Linked DNA regions of Homo sapiens. The protein of the gene in region 1 purifies or fractionates together with the protein of each later gene. This does not show direct contact. Each region holds a gene or a part of one and is shown in the gene's direction. Other genes may lie near its edges.

The links. The genes of interacting proteins can lie anywhere in the genome.
Region 2: the proteins of AZIN1 (region 1) and KLC1 purify together in Homo sapiens (affinity purification with mass spectrometry; 3 studies listed by BioGRID and IntAct, with this or other methods). This does not show direct contact.

Annotation. Positions count from the first base shown.
Region 1 is NC_000008.11:102,833,144-102,840,172, reverse strand, and holds part of AZIN1 (antizyme inhibitor 1), read left to right. Parts: intron 1-349; coding exon 350-523; intron 524-1,256; coding exon 1,257-1,429; intron 1,430-3,631; exon of another isoform or gene 3,632-3,782; coding exon 3,783-3,917; intron 3,918-5,425; coding exon 5,426-5,507; intron 5,508-5,909; coding exon 5,910-5,984; intron 5,985-6,954; coding exon 6,955-7,029.
Region 2 is NC_000014.9:103,653,187-103,660,215, forward strand, and holds part of KLC1 (kinesin light chain 1), read left to right. Parts: intron 1-1,377; 5' UTR 1,378-1,378; coding exon 1,379-1,639; intron 1,640-4,359; coding exon 4,360-4,590; intron 4,591-7,029. UniProt on the Homo sapiens protein: Kinesin is a microtubule-associated force-producing protein that may play a role in organelle transport. The light chain may function in coupling of cargo to the heavy chain or in the modulation of its ATPase activity.

The DNA of each region.
Region 1 (7,029 bases):
GAAAATAGGTTCCCTTCCTTCAACTGCCAAAAAGTAAAATCAAGGCAGTTTCATTCTGACTTTTGTCACTGTAATTGATAATAGTTTTTTTATCTCAAAGGGGAGAATATTTTATATGCTAGTGTAGCACAGCAAAAGTAATCAAATATAAGAAGAAAGAACAAATGTATTCAGAGTCTCTTTTAATGTTTACTAAATCTAGTTAACAAGCTTTAAATGTATTACTGTATGTAAATATATGTCTTGACCCATATATTTGTGGAGGAAAAGAGGTGTTCTTTCCTGTTTTGATACTTGATTTTCAATGGTTTTTTGTTCATATTTGTCTTTTTTTTTATAACCATAATAGACAGGGAAAAATGCATTTTTTGTGGGAGATCTTGGAAAGATTGTGAAGAAACACAGTCAATGGCAGAATGTAGTGGCTCAGATAAAGCCATTCTACACAGTGAAGTGCAACTCTGCTCCAGCTGTACTTGAGATTTTGGCAGCTCTTGGAACCGGATTTGCTTGTTCCAGTAAAGTAAGTATTTTTCATTTTTTAACTAAACTGAAACATTGAATAATTTAACTTAATGTAGTTACAGCGGTTAGAGAACAAATGCAAGGAAGTTTGACTTTTGGATGGAGTTTCAAAATAATTGTTTAAATCTCCAGCCTCATGTTGGAAAATTACAAGCTTTTCAAGTGCACCAATGAAAGGGAAGTTTCAGTGTAATGAGCCTTTGAAACGTTTTATCTTTATTAATTGAAAACTTTAATTTGTTCCTCATTCTTAGGCTAGAGCTACTTCTAGACCAAACTACAGCAGATATCTAAACTCTGAGATTTCTTTGGTGCTTCTTTTTAGTAATGTTTAGGCCAGGAGCGATGGCTAACACCTGTAATCCCACCACTTTGAGAGGCTGAGGTGAGAGTTGCTTGAGCCAGGAGTTTAGGATCAGCCTGGGCAACATAGTGAGACCTCGTCTCACTTTTTATTTATTTATGTTTTTAAATAAAAATATTGGTTTGGCTAGGCACAGTGACTCATACCTGTACTCGTAGCACTTTGGGAGGCTGAGGCAGGAGGATCACTTGAGCAGCCCCAGAGATGGAGGCTGCATTGAGCTATGATTGTGCTATTGCACTTCAGCCTGGAATACAAAGAGTGAGACCCTGGTTTTAAAAGGGGTGGGGGTAATAGTATTAGAGGAAGCATTACCAGAATATGAACTGTGACATTATGTATTCTCACTTTAACCTCATTTTCACAGAATGAAATGGCTTTAGTGCAAGAGTTGGGTGTACCTCCAGAAAACATTATTTACATAAGTCCTTGCAAGCAAGTGTCTCAGATAAAGTATGCAGCAAAAGTTGGAGTGAATATCCTGACATGTGACAATGAAATTGAATTGAAGAAAATTGCACGTAATCACCCAAATGCCAAGTAAGTATAAAATTAAGTACTTGAAAATATTATTTAGCACTTAGAGGGTTGGGTTTGTCTTTTGTCTGGGAAGAAAGGAGCATTTGTGGTAGGGCAATGATGTGTATCATAATTATAACTTATTTAAAGGGCCTCTGTGGGAAACACTAGTAACATTTTATTGGCTCTCTACCTCTGATCCTTCATGTGGAATTGGAATTTAAAAAAATAAGAGCAGTTTGGGGATATGATCTAATAATCTTCAAGGAATCCTTGATAGTTGGTGTGATAATCAAATTAGGGCCATGGCTGTATTTTCATTATTTCTATAACTTTGTTTGATGTTTGATAACGTTAGGAACAGGATAAACTTTGGTCAGCATTTTTTCCTGTTTAGCTGAGGATTTAATCTACCCTAGGCCATAGTTCTTGAATGGTCATCTTTACTGACAGTGTCTTCGAAGCCTAGACCATAGATTTGGGGGGTTTTGTTTTTAAGGCTAATACTTTTATTTTTGAACATGAAGTTTAATTTTTTACTTGCATCTTCATGTATCCAGAGAATTTTTTTTTTTTCTTGATTAGAAAGTTTACTTTTTAAAGGCTGGGCGCAGTGGCTCACACCTGTAATCCCAGCACTTTAGGAGACTGAGGCTGGTGGATCATTTAAGGTCAAGGTGGCCTGCGCCTGTAATCCCAGCTACTTGGGAAGCTGAGGCAAGAGAATCCCTTGAACCCAGGAGCCGGAGGCTGCAGTGAGCCAAGATCGAGCCACTGCACTCCAGCCTGGGCAACAGAGCAAGACTCCCTCATAAAAAGGTTTACTTTTTTAAAAGCAAAAAGATTTAAGGCAAATTTTATGTTTTCACAAACTGGTATATCGAGAGGGCTTAAGAATATGCTAAAAGCATATTGAATTATGCAGTTGTTGGCTTACTTTTTAATGAGTTATGTGTGTTTCCGGAAATGAATTCTATCTGTATTTTCTTTGTATGTCTATAATTTTCATACTGACTTTAATGGTGTACTTAAGATATCCTGACAGCATTGATTACTCTGGTAAATCTTTGTGTGGATAAAAGCCTTGTTGGGAAAATTCTAGGGAACCACTTGTTTTTCTAAAAAATATTGTTCTGTGATCCTCTGAAGACAAGCTGTGATTTGTGATGTTTAGTATGTTAGATTGTGGACTGGCATCTTCTTGATGGAGCTGATTCTAACCTTAGAATAATTTTTGCTTTCATCAATCTTGTCCTCTGATTATCAAATTAGGGCCATAGCTGTATTTTCATGGCCATATTATTAACCTTCTTAGTTTATGTAATTATTACATCCATAGGAAAACAGTTACACAAAAAGAATTTGTATATTTTCAACTTCTAGCAGTTTGTAATTACTCAGCTCCTGAAATTAAAGAAATTTAATCAGTTTTAGTCATCTTGTCTTGGTTGCCATGGTTTGGAAGGAAATACCAAATAGATTTGAATCAGTAGACTAGAAGGCTGCTGTTTAAACACATGAAATAATTTTTTAAAAAGCTTTCTGGGTTGGGCGCAGTAGCTCATGCCTGTAATCCCAGCACTTGGGGAGGCCGAGGCGGGTGGATCACTTGAAGTCAGGAGTTTGAGACCAGCCTGGCCAACATGGTGAAACCCTGTCTCCACTAAAAATAAAAAAAATTAGCTGGGCGTGGTGGTGCACCCTTGTATTTCCAGCTACTTTGGGAGGCTGAGGCAGGAGAATTGCTTGAACTCAGGAGGCACTCTCATGAGGCGGAGGTTGCAGTGAGCTGAAATTGCGCCACTGCACTCCAGCCTGGGCGACAGAGTGAAACTCCATCTCAGAAAAAAAAGAAAAAAAAATTTAAAAAATGCTTCCTATTTTTTTCCAGTTAGAGACCTGCTGGGATGTAACAATGTTAGTAGGAAGAATGTTTGCAGTAACCATGGAGGTTTAGCTAGTTAGCACAATCAAAGAAATTTGAAGACATTTAAAGCCCTGATATTTTTATTGAAAGACAATGATGGCATTGCTATTCAATTTAGTCTTCCTAGGTGGATTTATGGACTGATGGACTTCATTTGAAAGTAATGTCGTCTTTCATTACAGAGCCCAACCAACTCTTGATGCTACAACAGAGTCTTAACTTGCTGCATTTTCCAAAATCCCATCCTTGTAAGCTTCATGCTTTAGGCCCTAATTGCTAGTTTTTTCTCTATACAGGATTGTTTTTCATTAGGTTCACTTGATTCATCCGTCGCTGGATTTGGGAGCACTGGCAACATAATCAACACACTTCCTACAATCTTCAGGCTTCACATGTGCTGATGATGATGTAAACCAACTCTGCCCCAATCATCTCCCCTTCTCTTAGGGTCTTACTACATATTGCAACAGAAGATAATATTGGAGGTGAAGAGGGTAACATGAAGTTTGGCACTACCCTGAAGAACTGTAGGCATCTCTTGGAATGTGCTAAGGAACTTGATGTCCAAATAATTGGGGTTAAGTGAGTATTTGTTTTAAACTTTTAAAGCTGTGAACATTTTATGGTGGTAACCTGTCTTTCTGGTTATTGATTTAAGACTTTATTTGCATGAAATCTAAGATGCAATTTTTTCTAGTCTTTTAACACACATGTATGTGTTTTCTTCTTAGTTTAGGCAAAACAACTTAAATATGCCTTGTCCCTTTTCATACTGTTTTGTGACTGTACCTCCTTCCCCACAATAAAAAGAATAGCAAATAATATTTTGATTCAGTTAGTGCAGAGTAACTTAAATCGCCGCCTTTTAAATTGGATGGGAGGGGATTTGCTAGAATTCTTAATGAAAATAAAAGTGTCAGACTTTTTTGTCCTTTTAACGATTACTCTGGGGGACTTCAATAAATTAGACTTTGCTTTAGCCTTTTAATTTTATATGTGAGGAAACCGAGACTCCAAGAGGTTCAAATACTTGATAATAGCCTCAGAACTAATTACAGGCATAGTAACACTAAGCCCTAGATGTTATTTGCCAGCCCATTGCTACTTTTACTAAAGTAAAAAGGTCTTGCTTTTTCAAACACTCACAAAGATGTATTGTGTATCTTTCTTTAATTTTATTATTTATTTTTTGAGATAGTATCTCATTCTGTCTCCCATGCTGGAGTGCAGTGGCACGATCACGGCTCACTGCAGCCTCAAACTCCTGGCTCAAGCAATCTTCCTGCCTTGGCCTCCCAAAGTGGTGGGATTACAGATGTGAGCCTCTGTGCCTGGCCTTATTGTGTATCTTTCTATACTACTTTGTACATAAATAGGTGGTAGTCTTTTAAACAAAGAATGGGATCATGCTGTGCCTTACACAATAGATAACATTCCATGTCAGTCTAGTTTTAAGTTTTAATTTAAGTCAACATAAAAATTAATGAAGTACTATCTCGAATAGATGAAGGGAAAAGAAGAATGGACTTTACGGGTACAGTTCTATGGATTTTAGTACTTGTGTGACCACTGCCACAATCAGGAAGTATTCTATTCTGAAACTTTATCACTAGTAATACTAGTGAATAATAGTAATGCTGTTACTCAGCTTGATTAATGTTCATTTTTATTTATTTCACAACAGACACATTTTTGTATTTGGTTGGGTAAAATTGAATGTTCAGTTTTATGCTCAACTGAATGTGATACGATTTGGTAGTGCTTGTTACTTCACTATATAAACATAAAAGTGCCACATATACATAAAAGCACACCTTATTGTATAACCGTGGAACAGTACTGATAATTGACTTATTGTTAAGAATTTTTGTTTATAGAATTACAGTTTTATCTTGGCATTGCCTTTTCTATAAAGCTGGTACTGTAACTTTTGGGTAATTAGAAGCTAATGCTTCTAATACTTTAAATATTTGGTAAAGTTAATGGGGATACTTAATGGTATGAATATGATGAGTGACAGTTGAAAGAAATTACAGGAGGTGTCTCTACAACTTTCTGCTCCTTTAAATTTAGTATTCTATGTGTTTCAGATTTCATGTTTCGAGTGCTTGCAAAGAATCTCAAGTATATGTACATGCTCTATCTGATGCTCGATGTGTGTTTGACATGGCTGTAAGTTCTTTCTTTTAAGTTATTTTGATATTTTATTTTAGCCAGGATGTTAAGTTAAAGACTAAGTATTTTCTGCCTGTGTGAATTACTCTGACTACATTCAACGTGACACACACCTCATTTTTATTATATAAGCATTCAGAGCTCTGTACAGTCACACCTTTTAAGCAGGTAAAGGAGTGAAATAGTAATTTACTTGCATAAGTCTAGAAGAGAGTACAAATAAAATCAAAGAGACAGCATACCTAACATTGAATAATCTGTTTCTATCAGTAAAAAACCAAGAATTTGCTGTACTAAAGATCAGAACAGATATTTACCTCCCTAGGAGGGGGTTTTTAAAATGTTCTCATATCCATTACAATTTGGAAAAACATTTAAATTTTTTTTTTCCATCTCTAGGGAGAAATTGGCTTTACGATGAACATGTTAGACATTGGTGGAGGATTCACGGGAACTGAATTTCAATTGGAAGAGGTAAACTTCTCAGTAGATGACATTAACAGAATAATTGCTTTCTTTGTTACTTAAGTGGTGGATGTGTAGAGCAGGATTTTTACAATGGCAGAAACTAAACCCTATAACATCTCTTTAAAATTATGTTCTTAGAAAAGGAATAGGCAGTTAGTAGACCTAGCTAACTTTGAAAAGTTTGATAGAATTCTTTGAACATTATCATAAAACATTTTCTATTTCAGTTGTGTTTCTGTACTTAATGGCACAAATGATTTAATACTTAGAAAACTTCACTACTACCTTTTTTTTTTTTTTTTTAAAGTCTTCCTGTGTTGCCCAGGCTGGAGTGGAGTGGCGCAATTATAGCTCACTATAGCTTCCAACTCCTGGGCTCAAGCGATCCTCCTGCTTCAACCTCCCAAGTAGCTGGGACTTAAAAAAAAAAAAAAAAAAAAATTGAGTCTTTCTATATTGCCCAGGCTGGTCTCGGAACTCCTGGCCTCAAATGATCCTCCTGTCCCCAAGTGATCCTCCTGCCCCAGCCTCCCAAAGTTTTGGGGTTACAGGTGTGAGCCACCACTCCCAGCCAACTTTAGCATTTAGGCCAGATACACGTCACACCTGTTTCTCACCTTCCTGCTCTGCCCTCCTTCCTTCTGTGATATCTAGAAACTATGATTTGAAAATTTTACTTCTGTTTTTAGTGATCAAGTATAGAAAAATGACTTAAAAAAAAACAAAAACAAATACCAGTGGGTATTTGTTATTAGAGCTATTTTTAAAATTAATGCCATTCTGATAGTTACAAAATAAACTGACTTGAAAGCATGCCTAATTAATTGCTTGGAGATAACTACAAAGTTGCTAAGGTTCATGATCTGTGATTGGAACTGCTTCATTTTCCTAGAAAATTTTGTTAATATCAATCTCTGAATATTGCGAATTATCTAATCCAATATTGAAACCATACTGTGGCATTTAAAATCCATAGGTTAATCATGTTATCAGCCCTCTGTTGGATATCTACTTTCCTGAAGGATCTGGTGTTAAGATAATTTCAGAACCC
Region 2 (7,029 bases), on another chromosome or scaffold:
AGGCTAGAGTGCAGAGGTACCATCATAGCTGACTGTCACCTCAAATTCCTGGACTCAAGCGATCCTTGTGCCTCACTGAGCCTCCTGGGTAGCAAGGAATACCTGCACATACCACCCAGCTAATTTTACTTCATTTATTTTTATTTATTTATTTAGGCAGAGTCTCGCTCTGTCACCCAGGCTGGAGTGCAGTAGTGAGATCTTGGCTCACTGCAACCTCTGCCTCCCGGGCTCAAGTGATTCTCGTGCCTCAGCCCCCTGAGTAGCTGGGACCACAGGCGTGTGCCAGCACACTCACCTAATTTTTGTATTTTTAGTTGAGACAGGGTTTCGCCGTGTTGGCCGGCTGGTTTTGAACTCCTGCCATCAAGTGATCCGCCTGCCTTGGCCTCCCAAAGTGCTGGAATTATAGGAATGAGCCACCATGCCTGGCTGTCCTGCCTTTTTAAATAAGAGCTTATATTCAAGGTGACATTAGACACTTAATGAATCGTGAGATTTTAGACAGTGGCAGTGCTGTGAAGGAAATAACTCTGACGTGTAATCTTGCCTCCATCCCTGTCACTGTGCCGAAAAAGATCACTGCTCACTATCTTTCTGTTTTTTAAACTTAACTATGGGTTTTTAAGACTTAGAAAAAAGGAGAGAGGCTAGCAGAGGGAACCATTGCTCAGTGACAGCGGCTGTCAGGCACAACAGCACAAATGATGCTGTTTTTATATTCCCCTTTCCTCCCCCTTTTCTTTCTCACTTTGGTGTTTGAAAGCCCCTTCCAGACATTGCATCACATCACCCTGGGCCTGGCCCTGGTGGTGCTTCGCTGTGCCATCCTCATCTGTGAGCCTGCCCGGTGACCGTGCTGCACCTGTCCTTGATGCCCTGTGTCTTCCAGGTCTGCTCCTCCCCTGCTGCTCTTCCTGTTCCATGTTCTTTGGCTGGTTTTTCTTTCTTCTTCCAGCTGTGTGACTCCTTTTCAAGCCTTTGTCCAGTTAAACATTTTACCAAGAATGTAGTGTTCTTCCTGCATTTCATTAGGAAGAGAAAAAGGCTTGCAAACATTCTGAGAAAAAATGTTGTTCACCGAGGCTATGTGTTTTGGAAATGCCATTTAGATGTTTTGCTGCTTTTAATCTTTGGCATTAATTTCAGTTGCTGTCATAAAAAAGAATTAAGACATAAACCAGAAAAGTAATTAAATGTGTCTGCAAAGGAAAAACAGAAACTGCAGAATATGGTATTTCAAGGTCATAAATTACAAATGTGCATATTTATTATTCCCCTATAAAATGTTAATTAAAAAATTTTCATATTTACTTGATGTAACAGAAATGAAACCTGTAATGAGGGATCTAATTTCTTTTTCTTTTTTCATTCCAGAATGTATGACAACATGTCCACAATGGTGTACATAAAGGAAGACAAGTTGGAGAAGCTTACACAGGATGAAATTATTTCTAAGACAAAGCAAGTAATTCAGGGGCTGGAAGCTTTGAAGAATGAGCACAATTCCATTTTACAAAGTTTGCTGGAGACACTGAAGTGTTTGAAGAAAGATGATGAAAGTAATTTGGTGGAGGAGAAATCAAACATGATCCGGAAGTCACTGGAGATGTTGGAGCTCGGCCTGAGTGAGGCACAGGTACGAGTGAGAATGACTCAGACGTTATCAGGAACTTTTGATGGTAAAATGGAGACTTGTTTGAAATAAGCAGTTTCACTAAAGAAGAGGAAAGATGATTATAGAATAACAGATCCAGGCCGAGTGCGGTGTGGCTCAGGCCTGTAATCCAAGCACTTTGGGAGGCTGAGGCAGGTGGATCACTTGAGGTCAGGAGTTTGAGACCAGCCTGGCCAACATAGCGAAACCCTGACTCTACTAAAAATACAAAAATTAGCCGGGCCTGGTGGCTGGCGTGTGTAATCCAGCTACTAGGCAGGCTTGAGGCAGGAGAATCACTTGAACCTGGGAGGCAGAGGTTGCAGGGAGCCAAAATTGCATCACTGCACTCCAGCCTGGGTGACAGAGCGAGACTTTTTCTCAAAGAAAAAACAAAACAAAACAGATCATGTGTTCTGTATGTTAATAAATTACTATTGATTTGGGCCTATCAGAATTGTATTGATTGATTGATTGAGATGGAGTTTTGCTCTTGCTGCCCAGGCTGGAGTGCAGTGATGCAGTCTCGGCTCACTGCATCCTCTGCCTCCTGGGCTCAAATGATTCTCCTGCCTCAGCCTCCCAAGTAGCTGGGATTACAGGCATGGGCCACCACACCTGGCTAATTTTGTATTTTTAGTAGAGACAGGGTTTCTCCATGTTGGTTAGGCTGGTCTTGAACTCCCAACCTCACGTGATCCACCTGCCTCAGCAAAGTGTTGGGATTACAGGCGCGAGCCACCATGCCCGGCCTCTGAATTTTATTTTTATTTTTATTTTTTTGAGACAGTGTTTGCTCTCGCCGCCCAGGCTGGAGTGCAATGGCTCAATCTCAGATCACTGCAACCTCTGTCCCCCGGGTTCAAGTGATTCTCCTGCCTCAGCCTCCCAAGTAGCTGGGATTACAGGCACATACCACCATTCCTGGCTAATTTTTTGTATTTTTAGTAGAAACTAAAATGTTGGCCAGGCTGGTCTTGAACTCCTGACCTCAGGGCCTCTCTGAATTTTGAAAAGCGGATCCAAAATAGTGGATACTGCTGTGTATCATTTAGGATTTGATTTGGCTGCCAGTATCAAAAAAACAAAAACAGTGGCTTAAACCACAAGATGTTTGTCAAATAAGTACTGAGGTACACTCTCCTGGACGGGTTCTGTAGCTACACAGTCATCGGGGATACTCAGGTTCCTAACATCTGCCACACTGCACCTTGGCAGCCTGTCTTGGGGACTGAGAGTGAGCTCCATGTGGCCCTGTTCTAGCATAGGGGAAGGGAAAGGAAGGACGTGCCTCCTTCCTTGAAGGCTGCTGCTTTGATGATGTGTACAGCAGTGCTTACATTGCATTGGCCAGACCTTATGGCTGTACCTGGGTGAGTGGGAGACTGGGGAATGTTGTCTTCCCACTTACAGTGGCAGGTCCTTAAGCCTAAGGAAGGAGAATGGACACTGGCCAGTGGGTGATGGTCTCTGCAATCCCAGGGCCAGATTGCTTCATATCTTTGACTAACCTTTGTTTCTATAATATCATGCTTGACATAGAGATGAAAACACTGGAAACATCTAGGTTTTTAAATACTCTCTCCTGATAACTTCTGGCTCTGTCAGCATATCTTAGGTAAAATTAAATATACCAAAGCTTTGCTTCTTTCTTAGCATTCTCTAGTTTAGTGAGTGAATAGAGCAGAAGAGGGGCTGCTGGCCAGCGGTTTCTGCTTTCATAGAGGAAGTGACTGCCCACACCCTGATTTTAGAGTCTTCATCCTAACCATGTTACAGCCTTGAGTTGCAGAACTGTAGCTCTGTTTGGATATTGTGAACGTATTATTTCTCAAGTTCTGTTACCTTGAGAACAGGTGACATGAATTTAAACTTGCTTTTTTGGTGTCGCAGATAAGAGTTTTAAAAAAAGAAGGAAGAAAAGGTCCCACCTTCTGGAGTTTCAGGTTTTAAACCTAGGAGGATAATAACCTGGTTATTATGTTATGAGAGGGATGGGCAGATGTATGTTCTAAAGAGAGAACAGATTGCTGCCAGCCAGCTCCTAGCTGTTTGTGCTCTTATGCTCCTAGGAACTTGCCACAGCCTCACGCTGGTCTGTTCCAGAAACCAGTGAGCACTCTGTAGGCAGAGCCCTGGAGTGGCCCCTGGATTTTATGACATAAACATAAGCTTATGAGTGCACCAGTGCATTCTTACTCTTGGTGGTAGCTACAGAGATGTCTTCTCTCACCTTGGAACATCAAGGAAGATTTGTATGTGCACTGTTCTCTGACCCCCACTTGCAGCCCTTCACCAACATGCACTCTGTGCGCAGACATGCATGTGTGTACACGAGGTCTTACACATGGGAAAGGGTCTATAAAAAATTATGTTGGGCCCATCTTGATAGAAAGTAAAATAATACAGTTTCATCAGAAGGGTAGCTGTGTTTTCATTGCTAGTTCATTTGGCATGCTCTTCAAAAAAATAAGTATTTTTTTGTAGGCATTCTGAGCGTGTGATATTCTTTATCATACCCTGCTTTGTAGTCTGTGGCTGAAGGGGAAAAGAGAAGTAAATGGCAGATTGTACTTATATGTACTTTGGAGAAAATATCTGCGAGTGTAAGCTACAGCCCCAGCCACAGAATGTTCGCACGGGTGGGAGGGACTCTTGCTGGACAACGTGCCACAGTGCTGCACACGTTTCTGTCTGCTCAGGTTATGATGGCTTTGTCAAATCACCTGAATGCTGTGGAGTCCGAGAAGCAGAAACTGCGTGCGCAGGTTCGTCGTCTGTGCCAGGAGAATCAGTGGCTACGGGATGAACTGGCCAACACGCAGCAGAAACTGCAGAAGAGTGAGCAGTCTGTGGCTCAACTGGAGGAGGAGAAGAAGCATCTGGAGTTTATGAATCAGCTAAAAAAATATGATGACGACATTTCCCCATCCGTGAGTGGCTCTGTAGCAAATGTGGTGCTAATGTTTAAAATGGAGTCACTGGGAAAGTCATAGAGGTTCTGTTTGCCATATTCTTTTCATATTAGAACATATTAGAACATTAGAACATGCAAAAATGTTTTGTAAATATAAGCCACAATCCAGAGAGACACCATTACCTTCAACAAGGTCTGCCCCGAGGTCTGTCCCGAGGTCTGCCCCAGCTTAGGCTCTGGAGCTTCCTTGCCCCTCTGTAGCTTGGCTTCCATGCCATCAGCTGCTGGTCTAGCAGTGGTCCAATCTGGCCGTCTGAATTTGGACTCTGGGCAACCTCTCTGCCCCTTAGGGTGGGTGCTCTTGGCATTGCCATTCTCTTTGAAACTCCCCTGGCCCTCTGGACACCACCTGGCTCTCTTGCCGCCTCTCTCATCCTCCCCTTGGCTTCCCTTGCCAGCTTATCTTTCTGTATCTGCAGGGGAAGAAACGATCTTGGTTTTCTTCTTCTTCTTTTTTTTACAAGGAGTCTCGCTCTGTCACTCAGGCTGGAGTGCAATGGCACAATCTTGGCTTACTGCAACCTCCATCTCCCGGGTTCATGTGATTCTCCTGCCTCAGCCTCTGGAGTAGCTGGGATTACAGGTGTGTGACACCATGCCCAGCTAAGTTTTTTTTTTTTTTTTTTTTTTTTTTAGTAGAGATGAGGTTTCACTGTTTTGGCCAGGCTGGTCTTGAACTCCTGGCCTCAAGTGATCTGCCCACCTCAGCCTCCCAAAGTGCTGGTATTCCAGGTGGGAGCCACCATGCCCAGCCTTCTTTCTCTGTTGGCTCTATTTGGATGTTTATCCTAGTCTCAGTTATTTTTCATTCAACATTTATTTCTGATTCAGTTAACTTTTTTTTTTTTTTTTTTTGAGATGGAGTCTCACTCTGTCACCCAGGCTGGAGTGCAGTGGCACGATCTTGGCTCACTGCAACCTCCACCTCCCGGGCTCCAGCGATTCTCCTGCCTCAGCCTCCCGAGTAGCTGGGACTACAGGTGTGTGCCACCACGCCTGGCCAATTTTTTGTATTTTTAGTAGAGATAGGGTTTCATTGCGTTAGCCAGGATGGTCTTGATCTCCTGACCTTGTGATCTGCCTGCCTCGGCCTCCCAAAGTGCTGGGATTACAGGTGTGAGCCACTGCGCCCAGCCAGTTAACTTCTTTTTATTTTTTTTTTTACTTTTTTTTTGAGACGAAGTCTCGCTTTTGTACCCCAGGCTGGAGTGCAATGGCGCGATCTTGGCTCACTGCAGCCTCCACCTCCTGGGTTCAAGCGATTCTCCCTTCTCAGCCTTCCAAGTAGCTGGGATTACAGGTGCGTACCGCCACGACTGGCTAATTTTTGTATTTTAAGTAGAGATGGGGTTTCACCATGTTGGCCACTCCTGACCTCAGGTCATCCCCCCGCCTCGGCCTCCCAAAGTGCTGGGATTACAGGCGTGAGCCACCACGACCGGCTTCAGTTAACTTCTTTTTAAAGAAAATTTCTAAATTTTGGAATTATTTTATTTTACTTATTTTTAATTTTAAAAATTTTACCCTCCTCTCAAGTTTCCAATGGAATAATTTTAAATTGATTGAAAAGTTGAAAAGTTAGAGAAGAAAATTGATGTGCCCATAACCCAGTCTCCCCTGATCGTCCATAATCATAGAACAGTGGTCAGAACTAAGATATTAACATCAACACTTTACTGTTAACTGAAACACAGACTTGGTTGGATGTCACCAGGCCTTCCACTAGTATCTCTTTTCTGTGCTAGGACCTAGTCCAGTGTTCCACATTGCATTTGGAACTAACGTTTTTTAAATACCTGTATGATGCCAGACATGTTCATGTACATAATCAGAATACTAGAGAGGTGCACATTTGTGTGTCTCGTTCGAATCCCCATCCTAAGACTACTGAAACAGTTTTTTGCGTAGCACCAGCAAACCTGCATTTCCCCTCTGTCTTCATCTGCTTGGGCTACTGTAACAAATACCACGGGCTGGATGGCTTAACATTTATTTTCTCATAGTTCTGGAAGTCCGAGATCAGGGTACCAGCAGGGTCCGGTTCTGGGGAGGGCCTTCTTTCTGGCTTGCAGACTGCTGCCATCTCTTTGTGTTCTCATATGGTACAGAGAGAGAGGGAGTAAGCTCTCTGGTGTCTCTTTTTATGAGGGCACTAATCCCATCATGAGGGCCCCACACTTTCGAGCTCATCTTATCCTGATCACCTCCCAAAGGTTTCATCTCTAAATACCATTACACTGGGGGTTAGGGCTTTAACATAGGAATTTGGGGAGAACACAGTTTAGTTGACAGCATGCTATTTCAAAAGGCTTACCAAAATCCTCCCTCACATCTCCTCTAGGTTAGGGGCCAACTAAATGTTTTGATTTAAAAGATGTGGCTGGGCGCAGTGGCT